Linked DNA regions of Homo sapiens: regions 1 and 2 are each linked to region 3. The links come from fine-mapping of genetic effects on gene expression. A gene starts in region 3. Each other region holds a variant in brackets. All regions are shown on one strand. Distances are between the middles of the regions. Region 1 overlaps CUEDC1 (CUE domain containing 1). Region 2 overlaps CUEDC1 (CUE domain containing 1). Region 3 holds the start of CUEDC1 (CUE domain containing 1).

The links.
Region 1: its variant is fine-mapped to the expression of CUEDC1 in whole blood (TOPMed, PIP above 0.99).
Region 2: its variant is fine-mapped to the expression of CUEDC1 in whole blood (TOPMed, PIP above 0.99).

Annotation. Positions count from the first base shown.
Region 1 is chr17:57,928,629-57,936,806 of GRCh38, forward strand. The region is part of intron 1 of CUEDC1 (CUE domain containing 1); the gene reads right to left. Among named protein-coding and RNA genes, the nearest start is that of CUEDC1-AS1, 21 kb to the left of the region's middle. The variant CCT/C (reference allele first, on the strand shown) is at 4,703.
Region 2 is chr17:57,889,248-57,897,425 of GRCh38, forward strand. The region is part of intron 1 of CUEDC1 (CUE domain containing 1); the gene reads right to left. Among named protein-coding and RNA genes, the nearest start is that of CUEDC1-AS1, 19 kb to the right of the region's middle. RefSeq lists enhancers at 3,321-4,062, 3,723-3,772. The variant G/A (reference allele first, on the strand shown) is at 4,457.
Region 3 is chr17:57,952,005-57,960,182 of GRCh38, forward strand. CUEDC1 (CUE domain containing 1) reads right to left here and starts at 3,408. Exons shown (of 11, transcript NM_001271875.2): 1 at 3,221-3,408. RefSeq lists an enhancer at 473-974 and a silencer at 3,263-3,332.

The DNA of each region.
Region 1 (8,178 bases), 23 kb before region 3:
CTTCCGATTTGAGTCCTCTACGTTTTCACGCAACCTCTTTGCTATCAAGAAATAGCGAAGAGGGCAACTTGAGTTTCTCCAGAAAGGGAGAATATACTGGCATTCGAGAATTAGAGGTACCTGGCACTGAAAGTCCACCCAGCCTGCCTGGGAGACAGTATCCAGGATATAAACTCGGGGTGGGGGGCGGGAGGGAAAGGGTTAAGAGTCAGGTCCTGTGGGATTAAAGGATTTCCTACTCTGTGTTTATTACTTCTTTCCATCACTTAAAAACAAGTTCCAACATTGTCCCAATTCTGATCCTGGGTTTTACTTGGATCCACACTGAGAAAAATAATTCATTACGGCAGCCCCAAACTATCAGAAATTAGCAGGCGGGGAAAAAAAGTTTCCATTCCATACTAATTTGCCACAGTTTTAAAGGCCACCGTCTGTCTAAAAACAAGGGTGTTCCTTAACTGAGGCCATTGTCCTCATTTCCAGATGCTCCAAGACAGCAAACAATGACAATGATGCTGCTGCCAACATTTGACACCCAATATTATCAAGCCCAAATTCTGTGTGCTGGGCTCTTAACGATAAGCTTTACCCAAACTTATCTCATTTAATCCTCACCCCTGCCCTATGAGGCAGGGGCATTATCATCTCCAATTTAGAGATGACAAAATTAAGCCCCAGAGAGGTTAAACAGCCGCCCAAGAACACACCGCAAGTCAGTGACAGTGCCAGGATTCAAACCTGGATCTATCTGACCCCAAAGACAGGGCTCTAGACCAGGGCCACTAAAAGTATGTCCACAGACCACCTACAAACTGTTAGTTGTGGGTCCTTACCAAATAAGTAGAGAAAAAGAAAGGAAGGAAGGATTTTAAAATGTTTCTAGCAATCTGACCTTAGCACAATATCCAAGCATGTGATCTGTGGACTTCCCTCTTAGAACAGGGTATAGACCAGTCTGGATGTTCTCAGACTGGCTCAGACTGGTCATGCTCATCGGTTCCTGAACTAAGGAATAGAGCATATTGTCCTTCACCTCAGATACTTTGAGAAGCACTGTTTTAAAGCACTGCAAAGACGGGTCATACAAGACACTCAAACAAGGTTCAGCACGTCCCCAGCTGTCCCTGCAGCATCCAAAGTCTTCTAGCACAGCGCTTCTCAGTCTGTCTCTCTCTCTCTTTTTCTTTTTTGAGACGGAGTTTCGCTCTTGTTGCCCAGGCTGGAGTGCAGTGGCGCGATCTTGGCTCACTGCAACCTCCGCCTCCCAGGTTCAAGCAATTCTCCTGCCTCAGCCTCCCGAGTAGCTGGGATTACAGGCAGGCACCACCACGCCCAGCAAATTTTTTTTGTATTTAGTAGAGACAGGGTTTCACCATGTTTGTCGGGCTGGTATCGAACTCCTGCCCTCAGGTGATCCACCCGCCTCGGCCTCCCAAAGTGCTGGGATTACAGGCGTGAGCCACTGCGCCCGGCCACTTCTCAGACTTTAATGTGCACACGAACCACTGGGGACCTTGTTAAAATGTAGATAGATTCAGGAAGTTCAAGGTGGGGCCCGTGATTCTCCATTTCTAACCAGGTGATGTCAGCGCTGCTGGTCTAGGGACCTGACTTTGGGTAGCAAGTCTCCAACTGCACAAGCAGACCAGAGCCAACGAGGCTGATGCTGTGAACTCCACCTGGCAAACAAGTCGGACTCCAGCAAAGGCTCACCAGTTAGCACTGGCTGTGAGGAGGCCAGAAGGTAGCCCTTACAAACACCTTTCCCCAACTCCAGGCTGAGTCTGGGATGCCCAGGGGCCCTTTTATCCTGAGTCAGAAACCAAAGCCCTCTCCGTCCCAGGGGTTTAACAGAAGGCAGAGAAAAGCAGCTCAGAAGCACTTGCAAACATTGCGAGGAACGCTACCCACAACCACAGCAAGAGGAGGGAGGATTTTGAGAAAACTGTGCCCACTTCTTTGGTTCTGCTCAAGCCAGACTGAAGCTGGGTCTCCAACAGTGATGGCCTGGGAGAATCACTACACACGTGTGTTTGGACAGCACTTTCTACTTCTTAAAAAGAAGATATCCACATCTATCGTGAAAGCTGAGAAATCTAAGAGCTGGAAGCCTGGGAGGAAGGGATGTGCTGTGGCCAACACAGGAGGGCAGAAATGACCCCTCTGTGACCGCTCCTGTAGCCAGAAAGAGCCACAAACAGTCCAACTCCAAAGGGGAAATGGTCCCCATTTCCTGCAGGTAACCTTCTCATGACCTGCTCTACTCCCTGGAAATTCTTGACACTAAAGGACACTAAAGACCTTCTTCCTTAGTGCCAACCTCAGTCTCTCCTAGTTCCATTTCTGGCACAAGGACTGAATGACTTATTAAAGGAGCTGGCCGGGTGTGGTGGCTCCTGTCTGTAATCCCAGCACTTAAGGAAGCTGAGACAGGCAGATTACTCGAGCTCAGGAGTTCGAGACCAGTCTGGGCAACATGGCAAAACAGGGTCTCTACAAAAAATACAAAAATTAGCTGGAGGTGGTGGCACACACCTATAATCTCAGTTACTTGGGGGCTGAAGTGTGGGATCATCTGAGCCTGGGAAGTCGAGGCTGCAGTGAGCTGTGTTCACACTCCAGCCTGGGTGACTAAGTGACATCCTGTCTCAAAAAAAAGAAAGAAAGAAAAAAGAAACAAACAAAAAAAGAGGGAGAGGTACAATTCGCAGGAAAAACCCCAGATCTCCCATTCATTCCGGGCAGTCGCTCATTCATTCAAAAACACTGATGAAGCCACTGCCACATGCCGGGCACTGTCAGGAAGTGGGCATAGAGGCACAGGCTGGGGCCTTCTCCTTACCCTCCTCTAAAGAAGTGGGGAATAAGCAAAAAAGGGGTCATGAGGGCATTAACTAAGTCAAAGGGCACTGCTGTTCCTGCAGTGGGGGGAAAGAGAGTTCCTGGGCAGAAGCTCTCACATATGCATGGACTCAGGGAAAGCCAGTCCGAGGGTGAGACTGGGTATTCAAGTTGATGGTGGCTGACAGATCTCCTTCTCTTTACTCACACAGGGCCAAGAAAGGCCTGAGGGTTAGGAACACACAAAGGAACACAGTCAGAGGGACTTCATGTCCCAACCAAAGGTGTCTCAATAAGACACAGTCCCGAATCCAGGGAGGATCCGGCTGAAAAGCCTCCTCTGGATTGCAGAGGACTCCCGTGAAACCACGAGCCTCTTTCTCCTTTGCAAAAATCAAATCGTATTCTCCCACCTCCAAACCCTGCCATGTGCTGCTTCCCTACACGATGCCCCCACCCTGCTCCTCTCACCCACATGTGTCCTTCCCTCTCTCAGAATTCTGCTTAAAACGCATCTCTAGGCTGGGAGTGGTAGCTCATGCCTGTAATCCCAGCACTTTGGCAGGCTGAGGCAGGCACATCGCCTGAGGTTAGGAGTTCGAAACCAGCCTGGCCAACACGGTGAAATCCCGTCTCCACTAAAAACACACACACACACACAAAATAGCTGGGTGTCGTGGTACATGCCTGTAATCCCAGCTACTCGGAAGGCTGAGGCACAAGAATCTCTTGAACCCGGGAGGTGGAGGTTGCAGTGAGCCGAGATCGCGCGACAGCACTCCAGCCTGGGCAACAAAGTGACACTGTGTCTCAAAAAAAAAAAAAAAAAAAAAAGGCCAGGCATGGTGGCTCACGCCTGTAATCCCAGCACTTCAGGAGGCCGAGATGGGCAAATCACGAGGTCAGGAGATCGAGACCATCCTGGCTAACATGGTGAAACCCCATCTCCACTAAAAATACAAAAAAATTAGCCGGGCATGGCAGCGGGTGCTGTAGTCCCAGTTACTCGGGAGGCCGAGGCAGGAGAATGTTGTGAACCCAGGAGGCAGAGCTTGCAGTGAGCAGAGATCACGCCACTGCACTCCAGCCTGGGTGACAGAGCAAGACTCTGTCTCAAAAAAAAAAAAAAAAAAAAAAAAAAAAGTCTGTTGGAGGGCCAAGGTGGTTGGATCATTTGAGGTCAGGAGTTCCAGATCAGCCTGGCCAACATGGTGAAACCCCATCTCTACTAAAAATACAAAAATTAGCTGCGCGTGGTGGCAGGCTCCTGTAATCCCAGCTACTTGGGAGGCTGAGGCAGGAGAATTGCTTGAACCCAGGAGGCAGAGGTTGCAGTGAGCCGAGATTGTGCCACTGCACTCTGGCCTGGGCAACAAGAGCAAAACTCTGTCTTAAAAAAAAAAAAAAGTCTGGTCCAGGCGCTAGAGCAAGGGTTCTCAACCTTAGGCACTATTGACATTTGGGCTAGAGAGTAAGGGGCTGTCCTGTATATTGGAAGATGTTGAGCAGCATCCCTGGCCTCTACCCACAAATGCCAGTAGCAACATCACCCCCAGTTGTAACACTGCCAATGTCTCCTGGGGGGCCAGATGATCCCCACTTGTGAACCACTGCACTAGATAGATGGTTCTCAACCCTGGCTGCCCAATAGAAACACCTGGGCAATGTATAAAATTTACCCCTGCCTGGGCCCCACCCAGCACTAGCAGAATCAGACAGCCTCACGGGCAGCAAGGGGGGAGAACCACTGAACAGAGCTGCTCTGGACATTTTGGATCTCTTAGCCAGTCTAAGATTCTACAAGTAAACAACAATGTCTGTAACTTTATATAGCCTTGATGTTCTAACGTGTTGGTCGGTT[CCT/C]CCATTAGACCAAATCTCTCCAGAAGCAGGAACCATATCTTCTTTTTCCCTGTCTCCACAAAGCTGTATGCAGTGCCTCTTATTTTATACTAATCAAAAAAGCTGGGCAAGTTCATGAGCCCCCCTCCACCCCAATTTCAGATGAAGAAGCCACTTTCATCTCCCCCAGTTCAACAGCATATGACAAGGGAGAATTTGCAAAGGGAGGAAGGGACAGAAGAGATGGGAATCCAGGAGGACCCAGCCACCTGATCTAGCCTTGGAACGAGACTGCTCTCTGCCAGCTGTGGGGAAAGCTTGCTGAGTTGCAGGGATGCAGGGCTAGGTATACTCATACTTCCTCAGCCCCACCTCTCCCGGCCAGACTGGAAGGCATGAAGCTGGGGTCTTCAGCAGTAAACTCTAGTCTACCAGATCGGATGCTGCATTCCCCAGGCCGACAGTGACTCGAGAACAAATGAACACAGGCCCAGAACACCTCTATTTGGAGCCCGACTTATGGGCTGGGATCTTTCTCCCTACACCTCCTTCAAGACTCCCCAGGAGCATCTGGGGACCTGGCTGAGAGAGGCCAGCCCAATGTTAACAGATGCAGTCATATCTGCCTCCTGCTCCCCTCCCCATCCTGCTCACCACCTCTTCAGACAAGGCAAAGAGGAATGCAGTGTCAAGAAAGAATATTTAAAGCCAAGGTGGGAGGACTGCTTGAGCCCAGGAGTTTGAGACCAGCCTGGGCTGGGCAACATAGTGAGACCTCTTCTCTACAATATAAAAATAAAGGCCAGGTGCGGTGGCTCACACCTCTAATCCCAACACTTTGGGAGGCCAAGGCAGGAGGATCATGAGGTCAGGAATTCAAGACCAGCCTGGCTAGTATGGTGAAAGCCCGTCTCTACTAAAAATACAAAAATTAGCCAGGCGTGGTGACACGTGCCTATAGTCCCAGCTACTCGGGAGGCTGAGGCAGGAGAATTGCTTGAACCCAGGAGTCGGAGGTTGCAGTGAGCCAAGATCACACCACTGCACTCCAGCCTGGGAAACAGAGCAAGACTCCGTCTCAAAAATAAAAATAAAAATAGCCGGACATGGTGGTGCACACCTGTAGTCTCAGCTACTTGGGAGGCTGAGGCAGGGGTATAGCTTGAGCCCACAAATTCCAGGTTATAGTGAGCCATTACTGTGACACTGTACTCCAGCCTAGGCAATATAGCAAGACCCTGTCTCTCTAAAAAAAAAAAAAAAAAAAAAAAAAAAGGAAAGAAAGACAATATTTGGATATGAACCCCTATCTTTTTTAAGAAGTGGAAGTGCATTTGCTATCTACTCATTCCTTAACAGATACATAGAGAATACTTAGAGGGGCAGACATGCCATCCTTCCCGATTGTTTTTTTGAGACAGAATCTCACTCTGTTGCCCAGGCTGGCATGCAGTGGCGTGATTTCGGCTCACTGCAGCCTCTACCTCCCAGATTCAAACAATTCTCATGCCTCAGCCTCCCGAGTAGCTGGGATTACAGGCATGCCCCACCATGCCCAGCTAATTTTTGTATTTTTAATAGAGACAGGGTTTCGCCATGTTGCTCAGGCTGGTCTCGAACTCCTGAGCTCAGGTGATCCACCTGCCTCAGCCTCCCAAAGTGCTGGGATTACAGGCATGAGCCACCACACCCAGCCCGTTCCCCATTTTTATACTTGGGTTAAGCTCACAGACAAAATGATGGGGATAGAATCCAGGGACCAAGCTCCCCAAGACAGCAAAGGCTATTCAAGTGCCCGCAATCAGCTTTCTTACTAAAACTCACTGACTAATACACAAGAATGCAAACTGCCAATGTGTTTACCTTACATTTAATGAATGGTTTAGTGTTTTCTCTGAGATTTTACTTATTTGATATTCCATGACAACAGGATGAGCAATCCTTAAAGACCTGCTTCAGGCAGCCCTGGCTGGCTTGCTGAAATCAGTGTAGAGCAGTGAAGGCTTCCATCCTGAGTGACCAGCGTGACAGTGATTTTTTTTTTTAAGCTTCCCTCCCTTCCATTAGACACACACACACACACACACACACACAAACACACACACACACACCCTGTTGCCTAGAGACTGGACACATTCCTGGTGCTTACTCTTCTTTTCATTCTCCAGAAGCAGGAGCTTTAGAAACTGGGGCCTCCAGGAAATATGCCTGGGGCCGGGGTGAAGGGGGTCCAGGAGTGACATTTCCTCATAGCCAGGCCCGCCCCATCCCCGCTGCCCTCCCTTTCCTCCCGAGGTTTGAAAAGCCCCAGCAGGCTGGAACTGAAAGGCTTCCACAGGGAACAAAACAAGGCCCCCTTTGAAAGCCTGTGTTTACCCCGGGTGCAGCCAGGGGTTGCCATGGCCACGGTCCACCTTGGCGGGCCAGGCCCGCCTGGAGCAGCCTCAGCGCCTGGCCGTCCCACCCCAATTCCTTCCTAGGGGACCCTACTGGCACCCCTCTCCTGGGCCCCCTTGACTGCTGGAAGCATGGATTTTCATCAAGTCCCCCAAGCTGAAAACATAATCCTGGAGAGACTGAAAGAGGATTAAGCCTCCCTCTGGGGCTCCTGAGAGAAAGACCAGGGGACTTGACCAGCCCTGTCCACACCCACCTCCGCTGTTGCTGTCCTGTCTCCTGGGCCAGTGACCCACCCGCTGCTAATGAGAATGACTTATTTATGTCATTCATTATCGCTATGTCCTGGAGCCAAGCAGCATCAGGGGAGGCCAGACCAGGAGTGGGGCAAAGAGGAAAGGGAGGGTCTCTCCTCTCAGCCTCAACCTGAATCTGTCAGGCCCTGTGGGCTGCGGGAAACCACAGAGGCCTTGTGACCCAAGGACAAAAGCGGCTGAGGACATGGCAGGACAGTGTGGACTCCCAGGGCCCCTGAGTGCACAAGCCTGGCCAGGGAAGCTCAGCCCTCCCTGGCTCCACATTCCTCCTTTGGCCCTTCCCCAGGAGAAGCCAGAGGGAGCAGAGGCTCTAAATAATTCAGCCCTCCAATTGCTCTGTGGTCAGAGCTTCTTCATTTATTTTTTAACTCTCCAGGCTCCACAGTTTCGCAATGGAAGCACTCTAATCCCAGCCCTCACAACCAGGTGCCTCTCAAGCCCCCAGCCCAGGATGGCAGGGAAGGAGGCACCCAACTTCTAGGATTCTGCAGACTCATCCCTAAGGTTCAACACATCTTGAGGCCTCAGGGACAGTGGCTGGGATGCAGATGGGCAGCGGGAGGAGAGGAGGCAGTGCTGGCTCCAGGGCTGTTTCCACAGAGCATGGCACTACTGTGCTGGCAGAACTGGATTAATAGAAAGACCTGAGCCGCAACCCGGGTGAGGCTCAGATCCACCTCTGTCAGCAGCTCCACTCTCCTGCGCACTGCTCCTCTAGCCTCCTATCTATCCTTTCTCAGGGCTTCTTCCTGCACCCCCAGCCCATCCCGCCCCCATACAG
Region 2 (8,178 bases), 63 kb before region 3:
GCCCCAGGAGGCTGGTAAAGAGCCAGGAGCAGTGGGTAAATTGGCCAAGCTGCCCTCACAGGGGGGATGGGGTAGGGAGATTCTAGGGGGGTCTTCCCCAGCACCTGGATGTCAATCCCTGGAATTCTTTCAGCCCTCTGTAAGGAAATATTGATCCTCATGGCCCCAGGGGAGGCTGGGCTGGCCTGGGCAACTGGAGACACAGCAGCTCAAGCAGCCGCTTCCATTTGGCCCAAGTGCAAAGCTTTGAAAGCATCCTTGTGGGGACCACAAAATGTAAAGGACTGACAACTCCAGCCCAGCCCCACACCCTGCCTCACATTACAGGTGAAGAGCCTGAGACCCAAGTCTAGGAGGGAGTTGCCCAAGGACACACAGCGAGTAAAGGCAAAGTCTAGACTTTTCTATCAAAGGGTGGTTCTGTGGATGAGGAGAGTGGCTCAGAAACAGTAATGGGAAACACAAGGAAGCAGTAATGGGAAGCATTTTGATTACCAGAAGTACCATTTCCACAGGACTCTATAAGGTCTCAGAGACTCCCAGGCTGCCTATAGTTAGAACCAGGTGGACTATAGAGGCCCCCAATTCTCAGAGCACTGTCCCTCTCTCCCCCTGGCTAAGCTCAGGGCAGAGTCTGAGGCCATGGCTGTGGTGTGCCTGGGAGCAGGGTCAGAGCCGTCCATGCCAGGCTGCCTTTTGCAACTAGCACTGCTCAAATGAAAAGCAGTTTAAAATACACGAAAGGATTAAAGCAAGTAGGCGACAGGTTTACGAGCCTGTGCCACATGCTTTCACATTTAATCTTTATTACAACTCCATGAGACAGGTGTTGCTGTCTCCATTTCATAGCTGTGGGAACCATTTCAGAGAGGTTGGGTAAATTGCCCAAAGTCACACAGCCAGTATGTGGAGAGGCCAGAATAGGAACCCACTTCCTAAGAGGCAAAAAATGCCAAGTAAGGCTCACAGGGCTATGAGCCAAGGAGCATAAGAAATTCAGCCATGTGTGCCCCAGGCTCAGGAGACTGGGCACAGCCCAGAGGACATTTCAGCACAGGAAACATGACCCAGACAGCATGGTAGCAAGGTCTCTTGGCTCTGCTCCAGAGCTGGCTCTGTGACCTTGGAGAAACCATACCACCTCTCAGAACCCCAGCTGCTGAGCACTGGCAGGGAAACAGAGGGACATAACCCCTGACTGGCTTCTGAAAAAGGAAGCAAACAACCCACTGGGCTCATCAGACCTCTCGGAGGCTGACTCAAAGGCTCCCCTGAACTCATGGTTGTGGATGACCTGGAGACTGGGAAGCAGAAACCCCACACCTGTCCTCCTCCAGGTCCCAGGAAGCCAGGATCACAGTGGCCCTCCACCTCCCCTGTGAAGGAATCCAGGCCCGGCAGGGGCGGCAAACAGCCAACCTCCTCTCCTAGCATAAGCACGCAGCCAAGGCCTGAGTCACTCCCGGCTTGGCCCACGGAGGTGGGCAAGCTGCCCCAGTGCAGTTCATCTGGCCTTGCCCAAGGTCATCCCAGCCAGCCTCCTGCCTGGTACATCAGGGCCAGCGAGGGTCTGCATGGGGGCTATGAGAGCTGGGGAGCCAGAGTCCTGGGTGCACTTTGTGACCTTAGTAAGGCTGTGTGACTTGGGGAAATTGTTTCATTTCTTTGCACCTCAGCTCCCTCATTTGTAGACATAGGGGAGGAGTATTAATAGAACGTACATGGGTACCTGGCGTATAATAAGCACCAGTGACACAGGCTGCTGTGGCTTGGGGCACAGGCCTGGGACCTTTTCCCGGGCTAGACTCACTCCCTGAGCAATCTCATCCAGCCCCATGGCTTGGAATACCATCTGCATACTGAACACTGGCTCTCATGTGCTCCAACCTCTCATGGGCACTCCCCTCAACTCCACACTCATACAGCCTTCTTGCTGCCTCCACTTGGACATCCAACAGCAGCTCCAACAACATGGATCCATCCGACCTGTGATTCCCTCCGACCCCAACCTGCTTCTCCCCTGCCTTCTCCATCTTTGTTAATGGCAACTCTCCCTGGCTCCAGCCAAAACCTTTGGAGTCATCTTGGAGTGCTCTCATTCTCTTATACTCTATGTCCAATCTATGGCGAAGCCTGTCTTCCCCGTCTTCCAAATGATTTCTGAATCTGGCCACTCCTTACCACCTCCACAGCTACCATACCCTCCCTAGCTCCCTGCCTCCCACGTGTTGGCCTAGAGACCCCTCATCACAGGGGTCATGCCCTTCCTCTGCTCCATGCCTCCCAATGGCTCCCATGTCCCCAGAATACCCAGAGCTTTACCGTGGCCAACCCACATGGTCCTGCCCATGTCACCTCGCTGTCATATGTGCACGCACACATACAGACAGAGCCTAACTCTCTGTGGCCACCTGGATCCTTGCTAGTCCACCAACGAGCCAAGCACACTCCCACCCAGGGGCCTCTGAACTTACTTTTTCCACCAACTGCTACGTTCTGCTCCCACATATCTGCATGGCTCCCTTCCTTCTGGTCCCTACTCAACCATCACCTTGAGGGGGAACAGAGTGGCAAGTCCACCCCCCAACATCCCAGTGTTCCTAACCCTTTAGGCTTCCCTGTCTTCTTCATGAAACAGACCACCTTGAATATTATACATTTGTCACTGATATCTTCTCCACTAGAATGTAAGCTCCATGAAGGCAGGGGCTTTGCTATACTCACTGTGGTATCCCCAGTGCCCGAATCAGTGCCTGGCATGGTCAATAGACATTTATTAGGCGAATGAGTAAAGAAGGGAAGGAAAGATGGAGGAGTGCTGTAACTGTGGATTTCCCTCCCTTTCCTTCCTCCTCCGGCTCACAGCAATGATGGGAGGGGGCCTTTTCAGTTTCCAAAGCCCTCTCTCCCCTACACACTCATTTACTCCTCACAACAAACCTAGAAGATATATAAGGGAATGCGTTATTATCTCACTTCACAGACAAGGGGTCTGAGGCCAAGGCAGCCCAGTGACGTGGACACAAGGCTGATGGCAGGCTGCCCCTTTCCAAGCCAGTGCCAGCACCAGGGGGCAGGAGGCTAACCCCCTCCTAGATCTGACTTGACCTTCCATTCTGCCCCCCAGGAGGACCAGGGCCCAACCCTGAAAGGTGGGAGTTAGAACAGGAAGCCACAGGTCCCAATTGCCAGCACCTTCCTGTGTCCCACCCAGAGGCCACTCTTCTGGAAGGAGGGTAAGACTCCTCAGACCAGCTCTGTCTCTGTGCACCCCAGGCTCCCTCCTCTGAAAATCACCAAGGAGCAGACCCTACGTCCATCTGTGACTGCCGTGATGCCTGCCTGCAGAGGGATTTGCTTCTTGCCTAAGATCTGGCACAGCCCAGTGGCGCTGCCAAGCCAGGCCACTAGGTGGTGTCCCAGAGCTCAGGCCCTGGCAGCTCCCAGGGAAAGGGCCAGAGTGGCTTTTCTCTCAGAACCCAAGAATGTGCCCCACCCCCACCCTTGGCCTGATTAAAAGGGAGAAGAACCACCCAGTTGCCTCAGGGGTCTTAGCACCCAAGACCCGCAGAGTTGTCAAATCATTTAATCCTAGGCAGGAAATCTTTGGCACATGTGCCACCACCTTCTAGCCCTCATCCTTGGCAGACATCACTAATCCACCCAGGTATTACTGTCCTACAGAACACACACAACCTCAGAACCCTTTGCAACACCGCCTCTGTGCAAGCCACGACCAAGTGATTAGAACTGGCATGCAAGACAAGCCACTTGCCAGCGCTCTCATTTCCCGTATGAGGACACGCAGGCCAGGCTCACTCTGTCTCATTGGGAATCCAGGCTGCAAAAGCCAGTGGGGCCAGAATGAGGTCATATGACCCTGGGAGGCTTGTGTAACCATGGTTGAGTCCTGCGGAAACCTCAAGTGTGTAATGGCAGAGGCTGCTGGGCTGGGGCAGCTGCATTCTCGGCCAATTGTCACCTCAGAGCGGGTGGGGTGCAGGGAAATCTGCCTGAGCTTCTTGGCTTCAGAGCTGAAGAGGCCCCAAAAGGGGGTGAAAGGAAGGGAAGAGGAGAGCAAGAGACAGAGGCTCTCAGGGTATGTGTGTGTGTGTGTGTGTGTGTGTTTCAGGCAGCCCTGACAGAGACGCCTTGTCCTCCTGCCCCTGCAAAGGCTTGTTTTCTTCCCAAGCTATTAATGTCGCTGCAGCTTCAAAAGCCGGGTGACCTTTAAACGCTGAGCCTCCTGCTCCTGCCCAAGGCTCGGAAAAGGCTTAATGGAAACTCGACCCAAATGGCCACAGCTGCCGGGGCTGCAACAAAGCCAGCCTCATTCCCGAGGCCCCCAGAGCTGCTGGGCAGCCACACCTGTGCCCACCCCCAGGCAGCCAGGAAGGGCAAAGAGGACCCTCGGGCACAGCCATTGGAGAAAAGAGGCCACTGGACCTTAGGGGAG[G/A]AGGAGGAGGAGCAGGGGAGAGACAGACAATGCTGTCATGCGCTGCTGTGTGACCTTGGGTACTTCTCTGGACCACTCATCTCTTCTACATCTGTAAAACACGAGAATTTGGCAGGGCACAGTGGCTCACGCCTGTAATCCCAGCACTTTGGGAGGCCAAGGCAGGTGGATCACGAGATCAGGAGTTCAAGACCAGCCTGGCCAAAATGGTGAAACACCGTCTCTACTAAAAATACAAAAATTAGCCAGGCATGGTGGTGGGTGCCTGTAATTCCAGCTACTCGGGAGGCTGAGGCAGAGAATTGCTTGAACCTGGGAGGTGGAGGTTGCAGTGAGCCAAGATCGTACCACTGCACTCCAGCCTGGGTGACAGAGCAAGACTCCGTCTCAAAAACAAAACAAAACCAAACCATGAGGATTTGATAAAAGGACTCCTAAACCTCTTTGCCAGGAAGAAGCCCCACTGCCACCCAGAGAAGCAGGACACCTGGTTTCCATGCCCACACAGCAGAGCTGCCGGCAGGGGTGAGGCTGGGGGCAGCCCCTGCCTTCCAAAGGCTACTCCATGAGCTGTGCAGGCTGGGCATGGCATGATGCCTTGGCCACCCCCACCCCTATCACTTAGATCTGTAAGGGTGGGGCATTCCTTTAAAAATTGTTTTTAATCTTTAAAAATCAGAAGAAAGGCCAGGCTTGGTGGCTCATGCCTGTAATCCCAGCACTTTGGGAGGCCGAGGCGGGCAGATCATCTGAGGTCAGGAGTTTGAGACCAGCCTGGCCAACATGGTAAAACCCTGTCTCTACTGAAAATACAAAAATTAGCCCAGTGTGGTGGCGCATGCCTGTAATCCCAGCTACTTGGGAGGCTGAGGCACTTGAATCACTTGAACCAGGAGGCAGAGGTTGCAGTGAGCCAAGATCACACCACTGTACTCCAGCCTGAGCAAGAGTGAGACTCTGTCTCAAAAAAAAATCAAAAGAAAAAATACGATTCAAAAAAGACCTTTTCTTTTCTAATTTTTCTCTCTCCTGCCTCAACACTTGTGGCCAAGTCTGTAGCCAATGGGAGATGTGGGGCAGGGACGAGGGCAAGAGGTTTCAGAGAAGGTGAATGAGGTCCCTTGTGGACAAATTGGTCCCAGAGCCTCAGTCCTAAGGACATCATCATTCATCTCTGCTCCTGAGGCCCAAATATCAGGTGTGGCTGCCACAAAAGGCACCATCAAGAAGCCAATTCTGCCTTCTAGTGAAAAAGATCCAAGATGAGGCTTCTCAGCAGAGAAACATGTCATTTGTTTGGTTCATCTTAGCAAGATAATGGTCATAATAGTCATAATGAGAATAGATAACACTTATTGCCTGCTTCCTTATATGCTAGCCACTACTCAAAGTGCCTTATTGCATGTTAACTCTCTTCATCCTCCCTACAGCTCTACAAGGTGCATATTACTACTGCTATTTCCACTTCATAGTAGAAAAATGAGGCGTAGAAGGGTTGAGTAACTTGTTCAAGGTCACACAGCTAAGTGGCCAAGCTGAAATTTGAACCCAGAAGGTCCGATTCCAGATTTAACACTCTGTATCCATTGGGCTTGATCACCATTCCATATTCCCTAGAGCCTAGCACAGAGCTGGGCACACAGCAAGAACTCAATAACTGTGAGTTAAATTGAATACTAAAGGACAGGGTTGCCCCTGGAGAGGCTGGGGGTGCCTGGGTGCCACTGGAGGTATAAGGGATGGTGCTTATGTCCAGGAAGCAAAGGAGAAGACAAAACAGTGGCAGTTTCCTCACAAAACCTTTTTCCCATCCTACTGAAGTTGTCAAGTTGCCTGAGCAACCAACTGTTTTCCACCACAACCTGGGCTGGCTGGGGACTATTTCCACAACAGTCCCTCACTCCATAAACAAAAGCCACCAGCTCAGCCAAGATATTCGACTCAGGTGCCTGGGAGGAGATCAAACCTCAGCGGATTAAGGGGGCTACTGTCCCCCTGCCCCTCCCCTCCCAGGTGCCACAGCTCTAGGGGACCCCACTGGGCTGGCAGGAACACGCGCGTTCATGCTACCAAGTCAAAGGGCCCACGCTGGAGGAAGGGGGCCACTGGTAACTCAGGTGCAGGGCCAAGGAAGCTGGGTTGGCTCCAGGCATGAGCTCATACTGGACCAGGCCCAGCTTCTTGGGAAAAGGGGTCAGCTGCTCCTCCCTGGGCTTCTCCTATAGGCAGTCAGGCTGAAGGCCCCCCCAGTAGGCTGAGTTCTGAGGTCTGGACAGCAGCAGGAGACACCTCTGGGTCCCCGGACAGGCAGCAATCCATGCCCCACAATTTAGCATCCGAACATGCCCAGGTAATCCGGGTCAAGGAACCCATGATTAGAAAGGAGTGCTCAGGATGGGCAGAGGAGGGTCCTGCAAACAGAACTCCCAACCCCTGCCCTTGCCCTCCACACTAAGGCACACTTTGCACCTACCTACTGATTCAGGAATTCCACTTCTATGAAATTTACCTACAGATGATATGTTTGCAACTGTGTTGAGTATGGGCATAAGGATATTCCTTGTAATAGTCTAACAGCAGAAGACTGGAAACACTCTACAAGTCTACCCGTAGCAGGCTGATGAAAATATGATACATTATCAGCATCCTCCTCTCTCTATATAATGCTATTCAATAACAAACAAAAATGAGGGATTTCAATATGTCTCTTTAGCCCAAGACCTAAGGGAACAATGCAAGGTACAAAACAATGAGTATAGTCACTCTACTATAGTGCATTATGGGGTGTGTGTGTGTGTGTGTGTGTGTGTGTGTGTGTGTGTGTATGAAATCCGAAAGGATTCACAAGAAACTGATAATATATGTTTCCCCTGGGGAGAACTGGGTCATAAGAGATAGATCAAGGAAATTTTTCCACTACAGATTCTTGTATACCTCTAAAATTTTGATTGATACTCATTTATTAATTTAAAAATAAAATATGCAAATAATCCATTATTATTGGATTACTAAGAACATTAAAGTAATAGCATTGCCAGTGATTTTTATATCTTTTTCTTCTTTCTTTTTTTTTTTTTTTTTTTTTGAGATGGAGTCTCTCTCTGTCATCCAGGCTGGAGTGCAGTGATGTGATCTCAGCTTATGCAACCTCTGCCTCCCGGGTTCAAGTGATTCTCCTGCCTCAGCCTCCAGAGTAGCTGAGACTACAGGTGCGTGCCACCATGCCAAACTAATTTTTTGTATTTTTAGTAAAGATGGGGTTTCACCATGTTGGCCAGGCTGGTCTCGAACTCCTGACCTCTGATAATCTGCCTGCCTAGGCCTCCCAAAGTGCTGGGATTACAGGCATGAGCCACCGCGCCTGGCCATGTCTTTTGCATATTATATCATCTACAGCAGACATAAGTTACTATTTAATAATAATTATAGCAAACGTCTATGAGCACTTGGTAGGTACATGCATTTTCTATATACTTGGCATGCATTATCTCATCAAATCCCCACAGTACAGCAATGAATACATCCATTTCACAGAAAAGAAAACTAAGGCTCAGAGAGATTAAATAACTTACACAGGGTCACATAGTCAGTGGCAGAGCCCGATTTGGAATCCAAACAGTCTGGCCCCGGAGTCCATGATCTTCTTAACTTCCAACCTATAGTGTCTCTAATTAAAAGTTTTTCTAGCCGGGCGCAGTGGCTCACGCCTGTAATCCCAGCAC
Region 3 (8,178 bases):
ACACAGCTAGCATCCTGAACTCACCAACCCATGGTAGCCAGGGCCACAGCATGACTGAGAAGTCATGGCCACTGGGGAAGGTGAATCCTCAGTCACTGCAACAAGGACTTTGCATGCCACCAAGACACTTTCAATTCCCAAGTCAAGGACCACTGGACCACAGCGCTTTAGGGTCTCCAATGCCCTTCATTTTATTTTATTTTATTTTATTTTATTTATTTATTTATGTTTTTTTTTTGGAGACAAAGTTTTGCTCTTGTCATCCAGGTTGGAGTGCAATGGCACAACTTCGGCTCACTGCAACCTCCACCTCCCAGGTTCAAGCAATTCTCCTGCCTCAGTCTCCTGAGTAGCTGGGATTACAGGCACACGCCACCACACCCAGCAAATTTTTGTATTTTTAGTAGAGACGGGGTTTCACCATGTTGGCCAGACTAGTCTTAAACTCCTGACCTCAGGTGATCCACCCCCCTCGGCCTCCCAGAGTGGTGGGATTACAGGCATGAGCCACCGCATCCGGCCTCCAATGCCCTTTATAGCTCTTGCTTCCTGTAAGTGCAAGAGCCAGCAACACAGAAGCACCACCTCCTCCAGCTCACCTTGGATAGTCAGAGGTGACCCCTGTCAGACACCCAGCTTCCTGTGCCCCAAGGCTCTAGAATACTCCTGCCTCTGCTGCTTATTACCAGAGCAAATGTAGGAAGCTCTAAAGGAAGAATACCAGTGTGAGTGCTGCCATATGCCAAACACTGTGCTCTCTAGTTAAACAAAGAAAAATCCCCTACAGCTCTCTGTGGGGGACTTGAGCCTAAGGAAGTCTTCTCAGTCCCAAGGTAGAGAAGTCACAAATGGCAGATCGTCCTAAAGCTCTTCCAGATCCCTAGCAAGTGTAGATGCCACAAACACCTATGCAGCAGCCCAGGACCCAGTGAGCCAAGAAAGGAAAGGCAGGCCAGGCCTCCTCTGGCCTGGGGCTGCACTGGGGATAGTGACAGCAGCCCTCTGGCCCCCACTTGCCTTCAAGAGTCCAAAGGGATCTAAGGAACCGACAACACCCAGATCATAGCCTTGGACAATTCTGCCCCAAGACCTCCTTAAGAGTCGTCTTTCACACTTAACACTCTCTACTAAAGCACCTCAACCCCATTTCCCCAAGAACAAGCTGGAGCTCTTAAAGGCCTGGATCTCACACCCAGCTGAAACACCAGAATATCCACCTCCACCCAAATCCCTTTATTTACCTCTAATTCAATAGACCAGTGGGCCTAGTCCAGTGCCCAGGGCCTTCCCACCACACAGACAGCAAAATGAGCCCCTGGAAAAGGGCCACCTCATCTGCCCCCATCCTCTAGCTAGCTGTAGGGAGCTGGGATCTGTCCAGACACTCCAGGTCTCCATGGCCACAAGCCCAAAGTTGCATAGGGAGGTCATGAGAAAAGACCTTAGAAGCAGTCTGCTCTTTGAACCCTGGGATTATTCACTGACCAGCCAAAAAGGTGACAACTGTTCTGATGGCCCAGGTCAGACCAGTAACTCTAGGGCAGAGGTCTCAATGGAGGTCCTGGTTCCAAGGGGGTATATTAACCGTCTGGTGTTGAATACAGGTGTCTCCCTACACACATGCATTTTGGAAGGAGAGGAGTTAGAGCTTTCACCAGATTCTCAAAGGGGCCCATGACTCCAACCTCTGGCCCTAGTTGGCCTGGCCCAGGAGCTGGGGATACAGCCCTAGTCATATCAACATCCCTGGGCCATCCTCGCTGTCCAGGGTCTCTCTTCTATTCAAGGATGTGCCCAGGTCGGTAGCAGTATCCTGTTTCCCTTGTCCTGGCCCTTCCAGCTGCAGAAAGTGGACAGCGGGTTTCACACCCAGCCCTGCTGCACACGCTCCAGCTTCCTGGAGACCCGAGCCAGGTTTCTCCCAGCAGCACCTCTCCATCCCAGAGATGGCACCATATTCAAACTGAGGTACCAGTGGCACTGACCCCCAACAACAGAGAGGACCCAGCTTCACACTTGATCCAGCAGGGGCCCAACCACATGGTGAGATGACTTCCTCCGTGAGAGAATTCCTGGGGTCCCTCACCTCCTTCAGGCACAGCTGGCTATAAAGAAAAGGGGTGAAAGGCCCAGTACATCTCCCTGAGTCCTTTCTCCTGGGCCAGGTGGCTCAGGTGCTGCGGGATCACCCAGGGAAGGCTCATTCCTCTCGCTACAAGACGCTGACTGCGGATCAGGTGGGGAGCACGGTGGATGGTCTTCTTGTATCCTCTATCGCCTCCAGGGCATCTTGTTTCTAAACTCCCAGGGAGTCCCCTCATCTTCTACTCCACTACTCCACCAAAAAAAGGAAAATCTAAACCCTCCCTCCCCTTAAAACACATTCCGTCTCAGGAATTTAATTTCAGTGTACGTTTCTTAGAGCTAAAACTTTTTTTAAGGGGAAAAGAAATGGGCAGGGCAGTGCTGGGTGTAAGGCGACCACGCGACCGAGAAAAGGAAGAGGGAGGAATGAATAAACGCTGACACCAGCCCCCCTTGGAGCTCAGAGCCTGGGGCACAGGAGCCGGCGGGGCGGGCGAGCAGGGGCGGGGACAGCGCATTCCCAACTTTCCCTGGCCGAGCTGACGGGAGATACAGCTCCCAGGGGACCGGGAGGGACCAAAAAAGGCTGAGCCGACCTGTGACATCGGCGGGGGGCAGGAAGCGAAGCTCCCCTCCCCCTGAAAGGCGCTCGGCTCCCAGCAGGCGCCCCCGCCTGCCGTCGCCGCCCAGCCTGCGCCCCCAGGCCCGGGCACTGCGGGGAGGGGCGCCCACACAAAAGGGGGAGCGGCGGGAGAGGGGACTCGGGCGAAGCCGGCTCCGGGAGGCCTCGTCTCCCTTCCCTGCGGCGCTGGCCCGCGCCCCCCGGTCTAATCGCGCGCCCCGCTCCCGGCCCCCCAGATGCCCGCACGCCCCCCGCGCCCGGGGCCCGGGATGAGGTGGGGGCTCGGGAAGGAAGGGCGGGCGGGGACCTGCCGCACGCGGAGCTCCCGGGGAGCCGCGCCGACAGCCCCGGGAATCAAACTCGCGACGGCCCGGCCCTCCCGGCGGCGCCTGGGCAACGGGTCCCGAGAAGGTGGGGCCGCTGGGCCGGGGCCGCGGCCGGGATTGCGCGCGGGGCGCCGGCGAGGACCGCGCCCGGGGCCGGGCGGGAGCCGCGGGAGCGCGGGGGTCTTACCGGGCAGCGCCACGCGCGTCCGCTCCGCGCGGGCCGCAGGGGCCGGGCCGCGGGCCGGGCGGGGGAGGGGCTGCAATCCGCAGCGGTGGCGGCGGGGCCAGGCTCGGCGGCGGCGGCGCGGCTGGGGCGCGGGGAGGCGGAGAAAGTGAGGCGAGGCCGGCTTCCTAGCGGCGGGCGGCGAGAAATGCAGCTGTCCCTGCGCGGCTGCCGGCAGGGCCACAAGTGGGGCCGCGCGGGGAGGAGCGGGGCTGCGGGCGGGGCGGGGCGGGGGCCCGGCTGCGGCGCCCCCGGGCCCTTTCCCTATGGCCGACCCCTTTCCAGAGAGGAGGGAAGCGGACCTGGGGGTCCGGAAACCTACATGGTTGCCGGGGGTGGAGAGGGGAGCACCCAGTGAAGGCTGGAAAAATGCCCTCCGTGTACCTCCCTCCCCGGCCGCAGTGACTCCCTAGCTTGCGGGCAGGAGGGCGTGAGCGGGGTGCCTCGACCTCCCGCGCAGAGCGGGGTGCGGGGCATCCTGCCCCTCCCAGCTGCGGAGAGGGTGGGCGGAGGAGACCTGAGACCTCCGAGACTCCGCGGGGAGCTAAGAGCAGGGCTGCCCGACAGGTTCCAGGTCAGTGCCAGGAACCCAGGGTGAGGACGCACAGCTGGGGCTTGGGACACAGGTGTGGAGGAGGGGCACCTCCCTGGAATTAGGGCCCCGGAAAGGAAACCAAATCAAATGCTGAGGACACAGGAGATGGTGGGAAGGGGGAGCAAATCAAAGCTATCACTCGTCCACACCGACAGATACCACCTGCCATCTCCCATTTTCTCCTCCCCCAACCTCCCCAGCATCCCTGATCACTTCAAGGGCTGCTGAGCCCTGGGAAGATTTTCCACGGAAGAACTTGTTTAATAAATGGGAAACTGACCTTTGCTATACTTTTCCCACGTGCTTTCATTTCAGACTCCAATTTGGGAGTAGGTAGCCTAGGTCAGGTGGTGACCACCAAGCACCCTGCTACCTAGGGGATCTGAGGAGGGTGAAGAAGGCCAGATGCAAACTAAGCTCTGTCCCCAAACAACTTGCAAAGGGTCTGCACCCTCCTCCTGGAAAAGTCTGCCTTACAGACCCATTTGCCCATCTGGGCCCAGAACCCCAGGAATAGCCCCCCTCTCCCCTCCTCTGAGCGCTTGCAATTTGCTAGCCTTGCTGAGACAGATCGACACGCTCAGCCTCAGAGACAGCTGATGGTAAAAACCACAAACCAAAGTGCCCCAGACACCAATGTGTTTCCATCATTTGCATGTCAAGGGCAAGTTTCTTCAGCAAGGTGGGAAACTGGGAGGGGGAGAAACCTCAGAACCACACCCTCCTCGGGGAGGCCCAACGTTAGGTTAGCATGTTGAACGGAACTCCAGGACTGGGTTTCCAAACCCCTCTGAGGATCTCCTCTCTCCTGCTCCTCTCTCCCCACACTTCACTCCCTGGTGCATTCAATTTCCGGGGGAGGCAGGGTGCTTGAAATCCCAGAAGATGGTCTTCAGGCCCCAGGTTAAAGATTCTTAATCCGAAGGGACAGACCCATGCCTCTATACTGACTCCTGGCTCCTTTCCCAGGTTGTAACTGAGAGCTCAGGATTTGTCCGCCTGGCCAATATAGTCTAGATTATGTTATCAAGTGTATTACCTTACACTTACCCATAGTGCAGTTCATTTGTCACTTTCCTGCTTACTTGCAAGATCCCTCTGCAGTTCATTCCTGTCACCTTGGCATTTCAGGAGCAGAAAAATGCATCTGCAAACCTGGAGATTTCCATTTGCACTCGCCTATGGATTGCTCATAATTTTTTTTTTTTTGAGACGGAGTTTCGCTCTGTCACCCAGGCTGGAGTGCAGTGGCACGATCTCAACTCACTGCAACCTCCGCCTCCCAGGTTCAAGCAATTCTCCTGCCTACGCCTCCTGAGTAGCTGGGGTTACAGGTGGGTGCCACCACGCCCGGCTAGTAAAATTTTTAAATACATTATTATTATAGTCATTAATAAAACCAGTTGCTCTAATGGACACTCTTCCTTGAAGCACACTTTTCTTGGGCTTTGCTAACATACTCCTCCTTTTGGGTCTGTCCTTCTGGAAGCTTTTTCTCAGACCCCTTCCCTGCCTCTCACAACTTCCCCACCCCCAGACACCTCCACCCACTCCCACCACTGCCTCTGAGCCCCCAGGGCTCCAGCCCCTCACACCAGCCGCCTACAGAGGGCCACCTGTGAGTCTCCCAGACACCTAAAACTCAAGGAGGCTAAAGGCGACTGAGACCGCTTCCCTACCTAAGCCACCTCCTCCTACTCTCCTGAATCCACCTCTGGCTCAGAGGCTGGAAGCCTCTGTCTCCTGTGCAGCTTCCCTGGCCCTCCACTGGTTATCAGATCCTGTTCATTTCTCCTTCTCTCACCGCCTCACTCCTCCACTTCTGCCTGGTTCAGGCCCTATTGTCTCTGCTCTTCCAGAGATGTCCCTTTTGCTTTCCAGCCCAACCTCCTATGTGCTTCAGGAAACTCTGTTAGTTCTTCTTTCTCCTCCCCTCTGCTTCAAAACTACAAACACTTCAGGATACCCCCTTCTAAGGGAACCTGGCCCCAACCCTGCCCTGCCCTCAAGTCATTGCCCTGTTTCTCTCTTCTGCATTCATCAGTAGGCCTCCCCTAAGAAGCAACCAGACCCACTCTCTGCTTCTTCAAGCCCTATTCAATCCTCAACTTCCTACAATCTGACTTTCTTCCCCTTCATCCTAGGGGAAGGTGATTTTTACAGGGAGGCACCGGCATCTTTCTAGGGGAAGATGCCTTTCCAAGGGAGGCAACCTTAGGCTCCTCATTGTTTCAACCCATGGGCCTCCTCCCTATCCCATTCCTTCACTCCATTGGAGCCCTGGATGTTGCTAACGCCTCCTTGAAACCATTCCCACCCTCATGGCTTCCTAGCCTCTGCGTCTTTCTATCCATTCCCTCATTTCTTCAGCTCTGCCTGCCCCAGGGGTTTCTCCAAGGCTGAGTCCTCTAACTTTCTAACCAACCCCTCTTTCCAGATGTTCTCACAGGGGGAATAGAGTGGGGCAGGTACCAACCCCTCATGGCTCCACTTGCAGACTGCATATATATATATATATATATATATATATATATATATTTTTTTTTTTTTTTTTTTTTTTAAGACAGAGTCTCGCTCTTGTTGTACAGCTTGGAGTACAGTGGCGCGATCTCGGCTCACGGCAACCTCTGCCTCCCAGGTTCAAGCGATTCTTCCAACTCAGCCTCCCGAGTAGCTAGAACTACAGGTGCACGCCACCATGCCCAGCTAATTTTTTTATTTTTAGTAGAAATGAGGTTTTACCATGTTGGCCAGGCTGGTCTCAAACTCCCGACCTCCGCCCGCCATGGCCTACCAAAGTGCTGGAATTACAGGCATGAGCCACCGCACCCGGCTATTTTTTTTTTTTTTTTTTTTGGTTGTTGTCTGTTTGTTTTGTTTTGTTTTGTTTTTGAGACGTAGTTTCGCTCTTGTTGCCCAGGCTGGAGTGCAATGGCATGATCTTGGCTCACTGCAACCTCCACCTCCCAGATTCAAGCGATTCTCCTGCCTCAGCCTCCCGAGTAGCTGGGATTACAGGCATGCACCACCACGCCCAGCTAATTTTGTATTTTTCGTAGAGACGGGGTTTCTCCATGTTGGTCAGGCTGGTCTCAAACTCCCAACCTCAGGTGATCTGCCCACCTCAGCCTCCCAAAGTGCTGGGATTACAGGCGTGGACCACCGTGCCCAGCCAAGTTTTATTAATAACATTACCCCCTCTGCACCTAGTGGAGTGTGCTGATGACCTGTCCGAGCACCCCACTCCCTCTCTCAAGCCCCTGACTGGCATGTGTTACTGCCATTGGACAAGCTGTCCCACAGCCACTGCACCTTCAGTGCGGGGAGCCTGGAGCCCATCATCTCCACATCCTTTGCAAGAATTCTCTGTCCTGGATAAGCAGCACCTCCCATTCGCTCAAGCTGCAGATGTTACATGCTGCCTTCCTCCCCTCGTACATTCAACCCCCTCAGTAAACTCAGGGCTTTCTGCTTCTGAGTTTCTCTGGAACCTGCCCCCTCTCCTCTGCCCTGGCTCAGGCCCTGCTGCCAGGGCCCTGCCTTTCAATCCATCCTTTTCAGTGCCAGCAGTTACTTTTCTAATGTACAAACCGGTGATGTCTCTGCACTGCTGAACAAGGTGGATGACTTCCCATTGCTTGGAGAATGAAATTTAAACTCCTGAGAGAGGCCCTTCCCAGGCTGCCCTTAACTTCCATTCCAGCTCTTCCCATTTTCTGTCCTCATGCCACCCACCCACTCCCGGGCTAGAACCAGCCAAGAACAGGGCAGTCACCATGGCTCACATCTGTAGTCCCAGCACTTTGGGAGGCCGAGGCGGGTGAATCACTTGAGGCCAGGAGTTCGAGACCAGCCTGGCCAACATGGTAAAACCCTATTTCTACTAAAAATACAAAAATTAGCCAGGCGTGGTGGCAGGCGCCTGTGGTCCCAGCTACCTGGGAGGCTGAGGCAGGAAAATTGCTTGAACCTGGGAGGTGGAGGTTGCAGTGAGCCAAGATCGTGCTTGACTCCAGCCTGGGTGACAGAGCGAGACTCAATCTCAAACAAACAAACAAAACCAGCCAAGAACACTTGCTGTTTCCACAGACTGAATGTGAAGGTGATGGAAGCCTTTTGCTAAGTCTGTGGCTGTATGAAGCTCAGATCGCTGGAGCATATGGCATTATCTACTGTGAGAATGAGGCTGATGGAGAGCCACTGGGCTCAGGCTTGGAAATGGTGAGCTCTGATCGGACCGTGGGGAAAACAGGACATTTCCCTTCTGAAGGTCCCCCAGCCCAGGGCAAATGCCAGGGCATGAATGGTTGATAAGGAGAGCAGACAG